Linked DNA regions of Homo sapiens. The protein of the gene in region 4 purifies or fractionates together with the protein of the main gene of each other region. This does not show direct contact. Each region holds a gene or a part of one and is shown on either strand. Other genes may lie near its edges.

Region 1 (2,598 bases), on a different chromosome or scaffold from region 4:
ACAAGGGTTGTGGGAAGGATGTAATTATGGTAAGCATAGCTGGAGCAAAGACTGTATAACCAACTCTGTTTTTTCTTTCCTTTTTTTTTTTTAAATTCTTTTTAAATTGATACAGGGTCCCGCTATGTTACCCAGTCTAGTCTTGAACTCCTGGGCTCAGGCAGTCCTCCTGTTTGGCCTCCCAAAGTGCTAGCCACTGCGCCTGGCTCCAACTCTTCTTTTTCTTGGAAAGGGAGCATCTAATTCAGCAGTCCCAACCTTTTTGCTGCCAGGGACTGGTTTTGTGGAAGTCAATTTTCCATAGACCTGGGGTCAGGAAAATGGTTTTTGGATGATTCAAGCACATTACATTTATTGTACACTTTATATTTTACAATGTAATAATAGAAATAAATAATTATACAACTCAACATAATGTAGAATCAGTGGGAGCCCTGAGCTTGTTTTCCTGCAGCTAGACAGTCTCATCTAGGGGTGATGGGAGACAGCGACAGATCATCAGGTATTAGATTATCATAAGGAGAGTGCAACCTAGATCCCTTGCTTGTGCAGTTTGCAGTAGGGTTTGTGCTATGAGAAGCTAATGCCGCTGCTGATCTGATGGGAGGCAGAACTCAGGCGGTAATGCAAGCAATGGGGAGTGGCTGTAAATACAGATGAAACTTCACTGGCTTGCCTGCTGCTCACTTCCTGCTGTCTGTGTGGCCCAGTTCCTAACAAGACATAGACCAGTACCGGCCTGGGGGTTTGGGACCCCTGATATAATTGTATCTTAAAGACTGTGGTAGAACCTAGCAGGCAAGAACTCTTAAGTTATGACATCAAAGCATTAAATTATTTGGATTAAGACTGGACAGAAAGCAATGCCTCGTAGTATCTGCAAAAGGGCAAAAGAGGAACTTAATGTAGGTATGAGAGATGCCAAAAATGTTTATAACAAGCAAGATAAAAATGGAGATTCATTATGGACAATTCATTGATAATAGAGAACTTATTTATACCTAACCTTGTTCCCGAAAGGTTATAAAATGTCTTACAGATGAATGTACAATAAAATATCGAATGTAATTAAAGATACATAGATAAGGACATCCATAGAGAAAATGAGAAAGGACTAGTAGTGTAGTTCACAAAATGTACCATTAGTTCTTGCATATTTTTTTAAGAACTTGACTTAAGTTTTCTAGCAGTCATCCTAAAGAGGAAAGATAATAATTTTTACATTGGCTATTAAAATTCAAACAAATAGTCACCGAGGATCTAAGATCAGAGAGAAGTTTATTGAAGGTCTTCATAAATGACATTATACTGTCCTCAGTAACTTCCTCGCAGTAAATATGTCAACAAGTTCTTAGGGCTTTTAACCATAAGGCTGATGGTTTAACTCAGAGACAATTCATTAAAAGTGATTCTATAGGAGTCCAAAATGATAGATTCCAGGTATTCAGACGGATAAAAAGTCATTGATAATCTCATGATATTTTTGTGAGTATGATGAGTAATAGGGTTTGGATAGGTTCTTGTTTGATTTTTATCTTTCCTAAACCTATTTTTCTGATTAGACCATCTTCAGTTTCTGAATTATAAAATCTGTAGGAGTTTTAAATAACAAAACCTTCAAGATAGGGTAGGGAATATTTTCATTTTATTGCCACTGACATCCTTTTGGGGGAAGTTAAGAATTCTTTTAAAAAATCCCCAATTGTATCAGAGTTATCAGACCAGTTCTCTTTGTCATATGAAGATTATTAAAACTCTTCCTTTTACCTGTTAATTACAAAATGAAGACACATATTAACATGCCTATTTTTTCTCTTAACAGCATATCTTTCTGAAGCCATGAAGCTGACACAGTCAGAGCAGGTGAGACATATTCCCAATATTTGCGACAAGGGTTAGAAAGGTTTTCTTGTGGAGGCTTGAATTGTGTGTAAAGCAAAGCATTGTGTCCCTCTCAAAATGCTATAGTCAAAAATATATAAAATGGGCAAGGGAAGAGCACTTCACAACGGAAATTAAAACTAAATGAACTGCAGTCGATGCCCCAGACATGGAATGCAGAAACTTCTTTTTTTCTAGTGGTTACTCACAGATCTCAGATTGCCAGCCAGATGTACCTTTTAGAGAGCCCTCTTCGGACCATTCCTAATCATTAGCTCTTATTTGATCATTAGCTTACAGTCAGTAAACAGGCCTGGCCAAGAGGAAACTAGTTGGACCACCCTTTGCTTGTCAAAGATAATTTAAATCTGACCAGTCTCCCACTTGTCTTTGCTTGAATTCTTAAGCAGTTCAGGCACTTTTAAATTTGTTTCACCAATTGCTTTAAATTGTCTTCTGTGTTTGGGGAGGCCCTGCCAAGTGTTTCAAGATACATTTATTCATAAGACTGGGCATGGTGGCCCATGCCTGTAATCCCAGCACTTTGGGAGGCCAAGGCAGGGGGATCACTTGAGCCCAGGAGTTCGAGACCAGCCTTGGCAACACAGTGAGACCCCATCTCTACAAAAACTTAAAAAATTAGCTGGGCGTGGTGGCACATGCCTGTAGTTCTAGCTACTTGGGAGGTTGAGGTGAGAGGATCACTGAACACCTGAG
Region 2 (3,500 bases), on a different chromosome or scaffold from region 4:
AAGCTTCGGATCATTTTGGCAAATTCCAAAAAATGTCTTGTTGGACAGCTTTTGGTTGTGATTGCATTGGATTTATAATTTAATCTAGAGGACTAATGACAAAACAACTTTCAGCCATTGTGGCTAACATTTTATCATGTCCTGGAACGTCTTGGACATAGTCTAATGCTCCACCTCATGTACGCCCATCTGAATGACACAATGCCCAGGCTTTGGCTTACTTTGGCTCCCTTTGTGCAGGTGACATCTGAGTGCATAGCACCTACAACTTGCCAGCCCTGAAACAGCTGTCATAAGAATCTCACTTGTACTCACAACAGTTCTTCAGCTTAGATCATTGTCCTGTGTTACCTAATCAGGCTCAGAAAGATGAATTAGTGACCACAAAGTTAAACAACTAGTACATGGTGGCTGAGATTTAAGCCAGATCTTTGTGACTCCAAAGCTTATTTCCCTTTCACTCACTTGTGTTATTTCCCAACCCCTTTGTAATTAAAACCCTTCTGACTGGATACAGTTACTTCATTTACCAAAAGTCAAGGGGGTTTATTTTATTGCCTGAAGTTATGCATTTTGTTCATCTTAAATATAGTCTTTAGAAGTCTCACATGACCCTATTAATCACATTTCTATTCTGAAGTCACGATACACGGTGGTTCCTCTGCTTCCCAGACACTTGGCTATTTCTTTAAATTGCCAAGCCCATTGGGAGGAAACTTTAATTTCCTTAGAATTCCTCTATGTTTAGAGGTGGCTCATGCCTGTAATCCCAGCACTTTGGGAGGCTGAGGTGGGCAGATTGCTTGAGGTTAGGAGTTTGAGACCAGGCTGGCCAACATGGTGAAACCCCATCTCTACCAAAAAATACAAAAGTTAGCTGGGCATGGTGGCATGCACCTGTAATCCCAGCTACTCGGGAGGCTGAAGTAGGAGAATCGCTTGAACCCAGGAGGCGGAGGTTGCAGTGAGCTGTTATCATGCCACTGCACTCCAGCCTGGGTGACAGAGTGAGACCCTGTCTCCAAAAAAAAAAAGGAATTCTTCTGTGTTCAAAGTTTAAAACGGGCTACTATTCTAAAACTTGGTGATTTACAACAACCATTTTATTTTGCTTGTAATTTGTGGAGTCAGGAATTAGGGAAGGGCAGTTCTCATTTGGGGTCTCTCATGCAGGGTCAGCAAGATGGTAGCTGGGGCTGGAATCCTCTAAAGCCTTCTTCCTCGAATGTCTGGCAGCTGGGCTGCCTGACTCAAATGGCTGGGTGATGGAACTGCTAGAGCAAGCTGGCACCTCTTTCCACTTTCTTAGCAGCCTTTTCATGTGTGCTGCTGTGAGCTTCCTGAGAGCGTGGTGGCCTCAGAGTAGTTGGCTTCTTCCCTGTCAGTTCAAGGCTCCAAGAGCGAGTGTTTCCAGAGACCAAGGTGGAAGCTGCAAGGCCTATTATGACCTAACCTTGGAAGTCACATCGTGTCCCTTCCTCTGTCCTCTGTTGGTCAGAGCAGTCACAGAGCCTGCCCGAATTCAAAGAGAGAGAGCAGATACACCTCCGCCTCTCAGTGGAGGATTGCCAAAGAATTTGTGCCTGTCTTTTAAGTTGTTACAAGAAGATTTTTCTCTCCGTTAATTTATGAATTCCATGCAATCACAAAGGACTAGTAGAATTTTCTTCTTTAAATTCATGATAAGTCAGAAAAAAATGAGAACAACGACATGAGAGAATCTGGTGTATAATAAAGTCTGGGGCAAAGAGAGATTATTTAATAAGAGGTGTTGGGTTGGCCAGGTTAGAGTTAAACTTGAATCCTACCTTGCTTCTTATTTTAAAGTAAGTTCTGAGTGGATCACAGTTTGGAATGTAAAAAGCGAAACCATTAAGTTCTAGAAGAACACATGGATTAACTATCTTGCAGTGGGGAAGGTATTCTTATGTGAAGGGAAAAAAATGTTACAGAAGTCGTTAAAGGAAAAGTTAGAGAAGTTTGATTTCAAAAGATTAAAAACCCTTATTAAAGATGTTCAGCTTTACCCACAACTAAGCAGCTAAGGCAGTGAGATAGTGTTTTATTCCATATTGGCATACATGAAAATTTAAGACCCAAAGTTGGTACAGTTGTAGGAAAATAGGCTCTGTCAATAACTATTCAGCTTTTTTGGAAAGCATTTTGGCAGTAACAATCAGATTTTATTTCTTTTTTTGTTTTGTTTTGTTTAAGAGATGGGGTCTCCCTATGTTGCCCAGGCTGGTCTCAAACTCCTGGGCTCAAGTGACCTTCCCACCTTGGCCTCCCAAAGTGCTGGGATTATAAGCATGAGCCACTGCACCTGGCCAGTCAGGTTTTAAAATGCATGTATCTTTGGATACAGCAGTCCCTTGCACAAGGATGTTCATCATGGCATCACTTATTTACAAACTGGAAACAATGAAAAATACCTCTTGATAGGAAATTGGTAAAATAAATTATGCTACATCCAACTTAGTGAATACCCTGCACCCACTGAAAACAGTGAGGTGGAACAGATGAACTTATGTAATGAGCGCCCAGACATCTGACTGTTTTGTTTTTAGTGACTGTCTTTGGAGAGAAGGACTAGATCTGAATGAGGAAGATATATACACACATGCACTTTTTTGAACCCACAGATGCAGAATATATTGTATGGATGCACATAACTTTTTTCCAACATTTTATTATGAAAATGTTCAAAATATAGGAAAGTTGAAAGATTTGTACATTGAACACCCATAGACCTACCATCTAAATTCTACAATTAGTATTATTACATTGCCTTATCACTATTTAGCCATCTGTTGGTCTGTATTATTGTGTTTGATGCACTTAAAAGTAAATTGCAAACGTCTTTACATTTCACCCCATGTCAGCATTATATCATTAGAGTTCAGTAGTTGTTGGGTTTTTTTTTCCCCCTTAAAGTAGATAATTTTTTAATCTGTCAAGGGAAAAGTTTCAGGAAACCTTTTCTTTGCTTGAAAGAGCTCAGTATAGGAGAGCGCAGTACAGCATGATAGAACTAGATGAGATCAGGATCTGGAGTCCCATGAACGAACGCCCGCCTATTTGAATCCTGGGTCTGCCCCTTAATACTGGCGGTACCTGGCCCAAGTTCCTTTACCCTTCTGAGCCAGCATGTTTCATCCATGAAAAGGGCTAGGATTGTTGTGAGGATTTAAGAAGACATAAAGTAACCAGCACAGAGTAGGTGTTCAGCAAATTGGAGATCACTTCTCAAACTACTGCGTGGCATGTGGGTGGCCCATAAGACGTGACTGAAACCTCTGAAATGGTCTTTCCCTTCAGAGCACTCTGCTATTTGGTCCTGAAGCAGTACACAGAAGCAGTGAAGGACTGCACAGAAGCCCTCAAGCTGGATGGAAAGAACGTGAAGGCATTCTACAGACGGGCTCAAGCCCACAAAGCACTCAAGGTAAAAAAAAATCCTGGCCAAAAGGTCCCAACATAGCTACAGAGATTTATGCCAG
Region 3 (3,500 bases), on a different chromosome or scaffold from region 4:
ATTTACTTTCTGGTTTTGATCAAGTGTTCTAAATTTCATTGTCAAGAGAAAAGTTTTAGGAACATCACAACCCACAAATATGCTTTTGAAAATCGAATATTTTGCTTTTACTTTAAAGAGCTTATATTTAAAGGTTTATTAATTTGTTGAATGTGCTACCTCATTAGAAGTTATAAAAGATATCCAGTCTTCAGCTGTTCTTTTTGTATAGAAATGTGTCCTCTGTATAGAAGAAAAAGCAGCGTTTCTTGTCAAATTTCCTATCTTAGTCTCCAGAGTAGCCTTTCTCCCCCACCCACTCTACCCAGGACCTGACCCCCAAAGCTACAAAACAGCACAAAGTTAACCATAGATACAAATTTCTGGTTTTTCTAGAACCGAGGTCTAGAGTAGAATTTCATTATTACCAATGGGGCAATAATCAGCTTCTGATTTTATAGCTACCTGGTAGAGTTTTACAGTATGTGATTATATCTCTATTTTAGCATATTTTGTAAAGATTTAAGGAGATTAATAAAGTTATATATAGAATGCCTTATTGCTGATTCTTACTGATACTGGTGTGCATAAAATACAGGGCTGAGATTTTTCTCCAGCAGTTTTGAGTTTAGCCTGTTGATTTTAGCCTTAAAATCTTTTCTTTTTCCTCTGTGCCAGTGACTTCCAAGTCAGTTTACAGTTCCCTCATTTCTGCAAAGCTCCAAGCCTCATTTCCATTTTTTGGGGTTATGTATTGATTTGAAATGAAATATTAAATGTATTGTAATTTTATATTTAATAATGTCTTTTAAGTAGTAATATAGTAAATACAAGTTCACCCCCTTTGCCATAGAATGGCAACTACTGTATTCACGTTAACCTTTGTGATTTCTTCAAAGGATTTCTTATTGTTCAAATATAGATTTTCATAGTTGCAATTCAGTATTATAATTTTACGTTTATCCGTTAACATTAGAGATACTTATCTTTAGACTTTACCAGCATCCTTTTTAACTAATTATTTTAAAAGTATTATTAATTTGGTGGTAAGACAATTTTACATCGTCAGGAATTTCTTTAAATTCAACCTAAAACAGGTCTATCTTTCTTCATCAAGTCTACTCTTCTCATTGATGTTCCTGTTTCTGTTAATGATGTATTAATCTTTAGAATCAAGTTAAACATTTTAGTTATTGTTTACTCATTCCCCTTGTCTATGCATAATCCAGTCTGTCTTCTAGCTCAGTCTTTTCTTTACAATTACCTTGGCATCAGTTCTTTTCTTTGCCACTTTTTACTGGCAACCTAGTTCATACCTTTATTATTTTATTTTATTTTATTTTTTTGAGATGGAGTTTTGCTCTTGTTGCCCAGGCTGGAGTGCAATGGCGCTATCTTGGCTCACTGAAACCTCCACCTCCCGGATTCGAGCGATTCTCCTGGCTCAGCTTCCCAAGTAGCTGGGATTACAGACGTGTGCCACCATGCCCAGCTAATTTTGTATTTTTAGTAGAGATGCGGTTTCTCTATGTTGATCAGACTGGTCTCGAACTCCTGACCTCAGGTGATCCACCTGCCTCGGCCTCCCAAAGTGCTGGGATTACAGGCGTGAGCCACCGCACCTAGCCTTATTTTTATCCCTAGAGTATAGTAATAGCTTAATTGTTTTTCCTGCCTCTATTCTCTCCCTTATTTAATCTAGCATGCATATTGCTGTCATATTAATCTTTGAACAGTATCATTTTGATGGTGTTATTCCTCTCTCTAAATTTGGATATAGTACATTTTATCATTTAGCTTATGGTTGATACATCTCCATTGTGTTGTATCCTTTATAGAAATTGGTTAACTTGCTTACGTTTCAACTAGATCTTTACATTTTTTATTTCCATGCCTTTAGCCATGCCTTTTATCCTCTCTCCCTCGTTTGCCAATTAAAATTCTAGTCATTGTTCAAGATTCACATTCTCTTTTCTGGGGTGTTCACTGTACCTTATATTCTGCCTCTCCTGCAATAAAAACACTTTTTACTGAATAGTGTTTGTGTTTGTCTTCCCTTGTAGCCTCTGAGGACCTAATCTTCCACAATTTTTGTATTTCCAGAGCCTAGCACATAGTAGATGCTCACTAAAGGTTTATTGAATTTTTATCTTTTTACCTCATCAATAGGAAGTTTTAGAGTTATTTTTATGTTGTGAGATATATTTTTGAAACCTTCGCATCAGATACTTAGCGTATTGTTCTTGCACATAATGGAATTTGTGTGATTATGAAACAAATTAAAAACTTTGTTGTAGATTTCAATATATTTTAATATCTTGAGATTTTAAAAAAATCTTTTTTTTTTTTTGAGATGGAGTCTCATTCTGTCACCCAGGCTGGAGTGCAGTGGTGTAATCTTGGCTTACTGCAAACTCCGCCGCCCAGGTTCAAGTGATTCTCCTGCCACAGCCTCCCAAGTAGCTGGGATTACGGGTGCGTGGCACCATGCCTGGCTAATTTTTTTTGTATTTTTGGTAGAGATGGGGTTTCACCATGTTGGCCAGGCTCATTTCGAACTCCTGACCTCAAGTGATCCGCCCGTCTTGGCCTCCCAAAGTGCTAGGATTACAGGTGTGAGCCACTGTGGCCGGCCTAAAAAATTCTTAATATCGACCTCCTTTCTATTAAATTTTAAAGCAGTCTAGATATTGGTTAAGTGGTAGAAAAATATTATATCCAGTTGAGTCACTAATTAATTACTCACTTTGTAAGAGTCTGAGCTAGATCCTCTAGAGCGGGGGTTCACAAACGCTGGGCCGTGGACAGGTCGATCCACGACCTGTGAGGAACAAGGCCACACAGCAGGAGGTGAGCGACACACTGGCAAGCTAGCATTACTGCCTGAAATCCACCTCTTGTCAGATCAGCAGCGGCATTAGATTCCCATAGGAGTGCGGACCCTATTGTGAACTGCGCTTCTGAGGTATCTAGGTTGTGTGCTCTTTATGAGCATCTAATTCCTGATGATGATGTGAGGTAGAACAGTTTCATCCGGCCCCACTCCCCAACCCACATCTGTGGAAAAATTGTCATTCACAAAACTAGTTCCTGATGCCAAGGTTGGGTACCACTTCTAGAGGAATACAAAGTAGAATTAGTTCCATGTTCTATGCTATTAGAATTTTAAAATAGTTTTTCTTTTACTTTCCAAAACAGACAGACTTACAGATAGGTTTAATATGAAATCCTTTTGCTTTTAAAATACAAATTTGATCTACTTCTAAGGGAGCCATTTTAAGCATCTTTGTAAAATATGTGATCCTCTCGTCAGTAAAGGGAATACTTTTGTGTAGTCTTCTTAAGATGTGAAGTGTAAAAGAGACTGGAAGCAATTAATTTTGAGTTGCTTGTTAGCAAATAGTTTGATTACTATGTAAAATCTGAATTAAGAGTTTATAGTTTGTAACTGTTTACCCTTTTTTTGATGGAGAATGTTAAGATCTTGGAAGAACCTACTGGATAACTTTTAAAGAGCATTA
Region 4 (3,500 bases):
GGGAGAGTGCCTAAACTAAGCCTTGGGAGATGTTTTGGAGTTTTGACTAGGCAAGAAGTGAGGATGTTCTAGGTGGAGGAACATTTTTTTTAAGGATGGAAATGAGAGCATTCTTCGAGTAGATAATTACAGGCAGTTTTTGTATTACAAGTTGCTTAGGTCTCCATACTGTTAATGGCAAAGTTTGAGGTGGGGTGTGGTGGAAGAGGCTATAAAAGGTAGGTTGGGGTTAGGTGATAAAGGGCCTTGTATATCATACTGGGGTACTCAGAAACGTCTGGATGTCTGGGAGCCACTGGAGGGTTTTGAGCAAGGCAGGGAAAAAGGTCTTATTTATGTTTTCCCAGTGCGGAATGTGAACATAGAGGGTGAGTCAAAGTGTGGTTAGGGGACTGGAGGTATATTGCAGGAGATAGATGATGAAGGCCTGAATGAGGCAGTGGTAGTAGAGATAGAACAGACAGGACAGATAAGAGAAATAATTAAATGCTGAAACTGGCAGAACTTGGTGATTGGTTGGATGTGAGATAAGGAGGTGAAGGTACCTAGGATGACTGTCAGGCCTCTGGCTTGGGTCACGAGATAGTATCTGAGACTCAAGGTCTAGAACAGCAAGTTTGTGGGGAGTAGGTATGAGAGAGGAAGAGTTCAGTTTAGACTGACGGAGTTGAAGTTTGTCCAGCAGGCGGGTAGATGCATGACACTGAAGCTCAGGAGCACACCCAGGGGTGAATGTAAAGATTTGAGGTCTCAGCATAAGTGTTAATTAAAACCATGAAAGCAAATGAGATCAAAGATAAGATATTAGGAGATGGGATCAGTAGCCAAACCCAGCAGAAAAACAGTGTTTGAAAGTGGACCGAGGAAGAAGAGAAAAATATAAACTTTAAGCTATTTATTTACCCATATTACTCATCAAGAAACACCTGATCATTTTATTCCTGTGGGAATGAGTTAGTGGGTTGTTGTTTTTTTTTGTGTGTGTGGGCTTTGTTTTGTTTTGTTTTGAGACAGTGTCTTGCTTTGTTGCCCAGGCTGGTCTCAAACTCCCAGCCTCAAGTGATCCTCCAGCCTCAGCCTCCCAAAGTGCTGGGATTACAGGTGTGAGCCACCGCCCAGCCAAGTTAGTGGGTTTCTAGGTTTTACAAGAATTAAGACTCACTCACTCCAGTATGTAGCCAGAATGGCAATTCCAAATCCTTGTCTTCACTTATGTAAACTCACGTTTTCTGATGATGTTTTTGGTTGGATGGGGCAGTCTTTAACTGTTGTTTTATGTCTGCTTTTTAAGCAAACAATTTATATTCCTTTATAATCCCCTACAATTTTTGAGAAAGATGCAGATCACATAAGAAATATTAGTGTGGAGTTTTTTTATTAGAGAACTGGAGGTGATAGTTCTCACTCTTTTTTTTTTTTTTTTCTGTAAACCTTTGGTTTGGAGGAAATTTGGCTCCTTTCTCTTTTAACTTAGGATTTAGCTTTATATATTCTATGTACAATATATTGTAAAATTTATTATTAACATATATTTCAGCTACATATTGTCTTAATTTCAAGTTGGCTAAAGGGTATTACAGAAGAATAACCTGAGTGGGCTTCCATTTTCTACTTGGATAGGCCTTTCCCCCTTCCATCTTCTCTTCCACATTGCTGCTATAATTAACTTAACGAAAATGCAACTCTAATCTTGTCACTAGTCTGCTTTAGAAATTACTCAGCAGCTCCTCATTGTCTAGAATGAAGTCCACTGTCAGCTGGACAGTCAGCTTTCCATAACCTGACCCCACACCTTTCTCATCCCATCTGCCAATCCCCCTACATACTTCATACAATAACTGTCCCCCACTGCTTATCCTTCTGGGGAATTCCATGTACTTCCATAACATTGTGCCTGTGTGTGGTCTCCCCAAGATGTGCTTCTAACCATTTCTCAATTTGCCAAAATCCTTTTAATCTCTGTCCTTAGGTAACCCTTCTTCCTCTGCATAGTGGAATTCATTGTGTTCTGGGTATTTATGTAACAATTGGTGCATGTAGCTGTTCATTAGCTATAAATAGTTGCATCTATATATTTTCTCTGAGAGATTGTAAGCCTTTGGAAGGTCAATACAGTGGCTTATCATTGGTTTACTTTATAAATGCTGAATTTCTACAAAATGCCAGGCTCTGCCTCAATTTACAGTTACCATCTTGGCAGCACCTACCACAGTGGTTGGCAGATAGTAATTAAAATGAGTCTTTAGGTCTGACTTTGAGAGTATCAAACCTGTTGGCATCAGATAAGACCATGCATAAAATTTCAAATGTTGCAAATCCAGTTGTTTTCAAAATGTGTTTAAAAGCATTGTTTACTTGTTAATTTTTTTGCTTTAGTCAAAGAAAAAAGGACTGAGTGCAGAAGAAAAGAGAACTCGCATGATGGAAATATTTTCTGAAACAGTAAGTCATTTTCTTTAACACTTATAATTTTGTGTAATTTTCATCTTAAGTATATGTCATCCAATGTTAACTGTCCCCTCTTTGTTAAACATCAATACTGATCAATTTCTTGAAGAATGGGTAAGATTCTGCAAATATTTGTGGTTCCTGTGAGTTATGGAGTGTGAAAAACCATATCCCACTGTTGGTAGAGTCTCTTTCACCCAAGCAGTCCTGCATACTGGCACCAGAATCTTCTGATGCATATATTTGATTATCTCCTCTTTCTGCCTGAAAAATAATAATGATGAAAGCCCACATCTCCTGAGTGCTGCCTAGGTGCCAACCAGTCTTGGATCTCAAACAATAGAAGCCATAGTTCCAGGATTCAAACCAGGGAGGATCATTTGATTTCAGAGGGAGTACCAAATACTATGTCTTTGCATTTTAAGTCTGTCTATAGTGTAACACACAGTCGATGGTACAGAGGCCTTCATTTATTCCAGATATTTGTGCCTGCCATCAACAGGAAATATGTTTAAAGTTTCATCTCCTAAGTGAAGAGCCAGAGTTCAAACCCAGGTACCTGGCTCTACAGCCTACTGTCTCATGGCTTTACACTGTTACTGGAAGGCTTTTCTATGTCTTCAGGTTAAAGGCCACATAAATCTTTGACCTAAAAGAACACCGACTTCATATGGCTTGGCAGGACCTACAAAGCCTAGTTGGCCCCAGTCTACTGGCTATTTTCATCATATACAAATGTGAAGAAGATGGGGAAAAGTGGTAGAATTGAATATTAAATTGATAAAATCCCTTTTCACTTTAAGGCAGATTCTTAGTAAAAAAAAAAAAAAAAAACAAACAAAATACACGGGATTTGCCCACTAAGTATAATCTTATTGTTCTTAAAAGTCATTGGCAATTCAGAACAGGGTGTCATATTATGATGATGATATGGTTACAAAGATAAATTGGTGAAGTCTCTATGTGAAAATTATAGCAATTCTTCTGCTGAGTTGAAATATTTTTCCTATGGTCTCAGCAAGAAAAGTAAGTTTAATTCCTTCAAGACAGTA

What was found. The genes of interacting proteins can lie anywhere in the genome.
Region 1: the proteins of MND1 (region 4) and NRBF2 purify together in Homo sapiens (co-immunoprecipitation; one large-scale study listed by IntAct). This does not show direct contact.
Region 2: the proteins of MND1 (region 4) and TOMM34 purify together in Homo sapiens (affinity purification with mass spectrometry; one large-scale study listed by BioGRID and IntAct). This does not show direct contact.
Region 3: the proteins of MND1 (region 4) and PPP1R12A purify together in Homo sapiens (affinity purification with mass spectrometry; one large-scale study listed by BioGRID and IntAct). This does not show direct contact.

Annotation. Positions count from the first base shown.
Region 1 is NC_000010.11:63,150,328-63,152,925, forward strand, and holds part of NRBF2 (nuclear receptor-binding factor 2), read left to right. Parts: exon of another isoform or gene 1-29; intron 30-1,822; coding exon 1,823-1,863; intron 1,864-2,598. UniProt on the Homo sapiens protein: May modulate transcriptional activation by target nuclear receptors. Can act as transcriptional activator (in vitro). Involved in starvation-induced autophagy probably by its association with PI3K complex I (PI3KC3-C1).
Region 2 is NC_000020.11:44,943,398-44,946,897, reverse strand, and holds part of TOMM34 (mitochondrial import receptor subunit TOM34), read left to right. Parts: intron 1-3,318; coding exon 3,319-3,445; exon of another isoform or gene 3,446-3,446; intron 3,447-3,500. UniProt on the Homo sapiens protein: Plays a role in the import of cytosolically synthesized preproteins into mitochondria. Binds the mature portion of precursor proteins. Interacts with cellular components, and possesses weak ATPase activity.
Region 3 is NC_000012.12:79,928,598-79,932,097, reverse strand, and holds part of PPP1R12A (protein phosphatase 1 regulatory subunit 12A), read left to right. Parts: intron 1-3,500. UniProt on the Homo sapiens protein: Key regulator of protein phosphatase 1C (PPP1C). Mediates binding to myosin. As part of the PPP1C complex, involved in dephosphorylation of PLK1. Capable of inhibiting HIF1AN-dependent suppression of HIF1A activity.
Region 4 is NC_000004.12:153,347,688-153,351,187, forward strand, and holds part of MND1 (meiotic nuclear division protein 1 homolog), read left to right. Parts: intron 1-2,376; coding exon 2,377-2,442; intron 2,443-3,500. UniProt on the Homo sapiens protein: Required for proper homologous chromosome pairing and efficient cross-over and intragenic recombination during meiosis.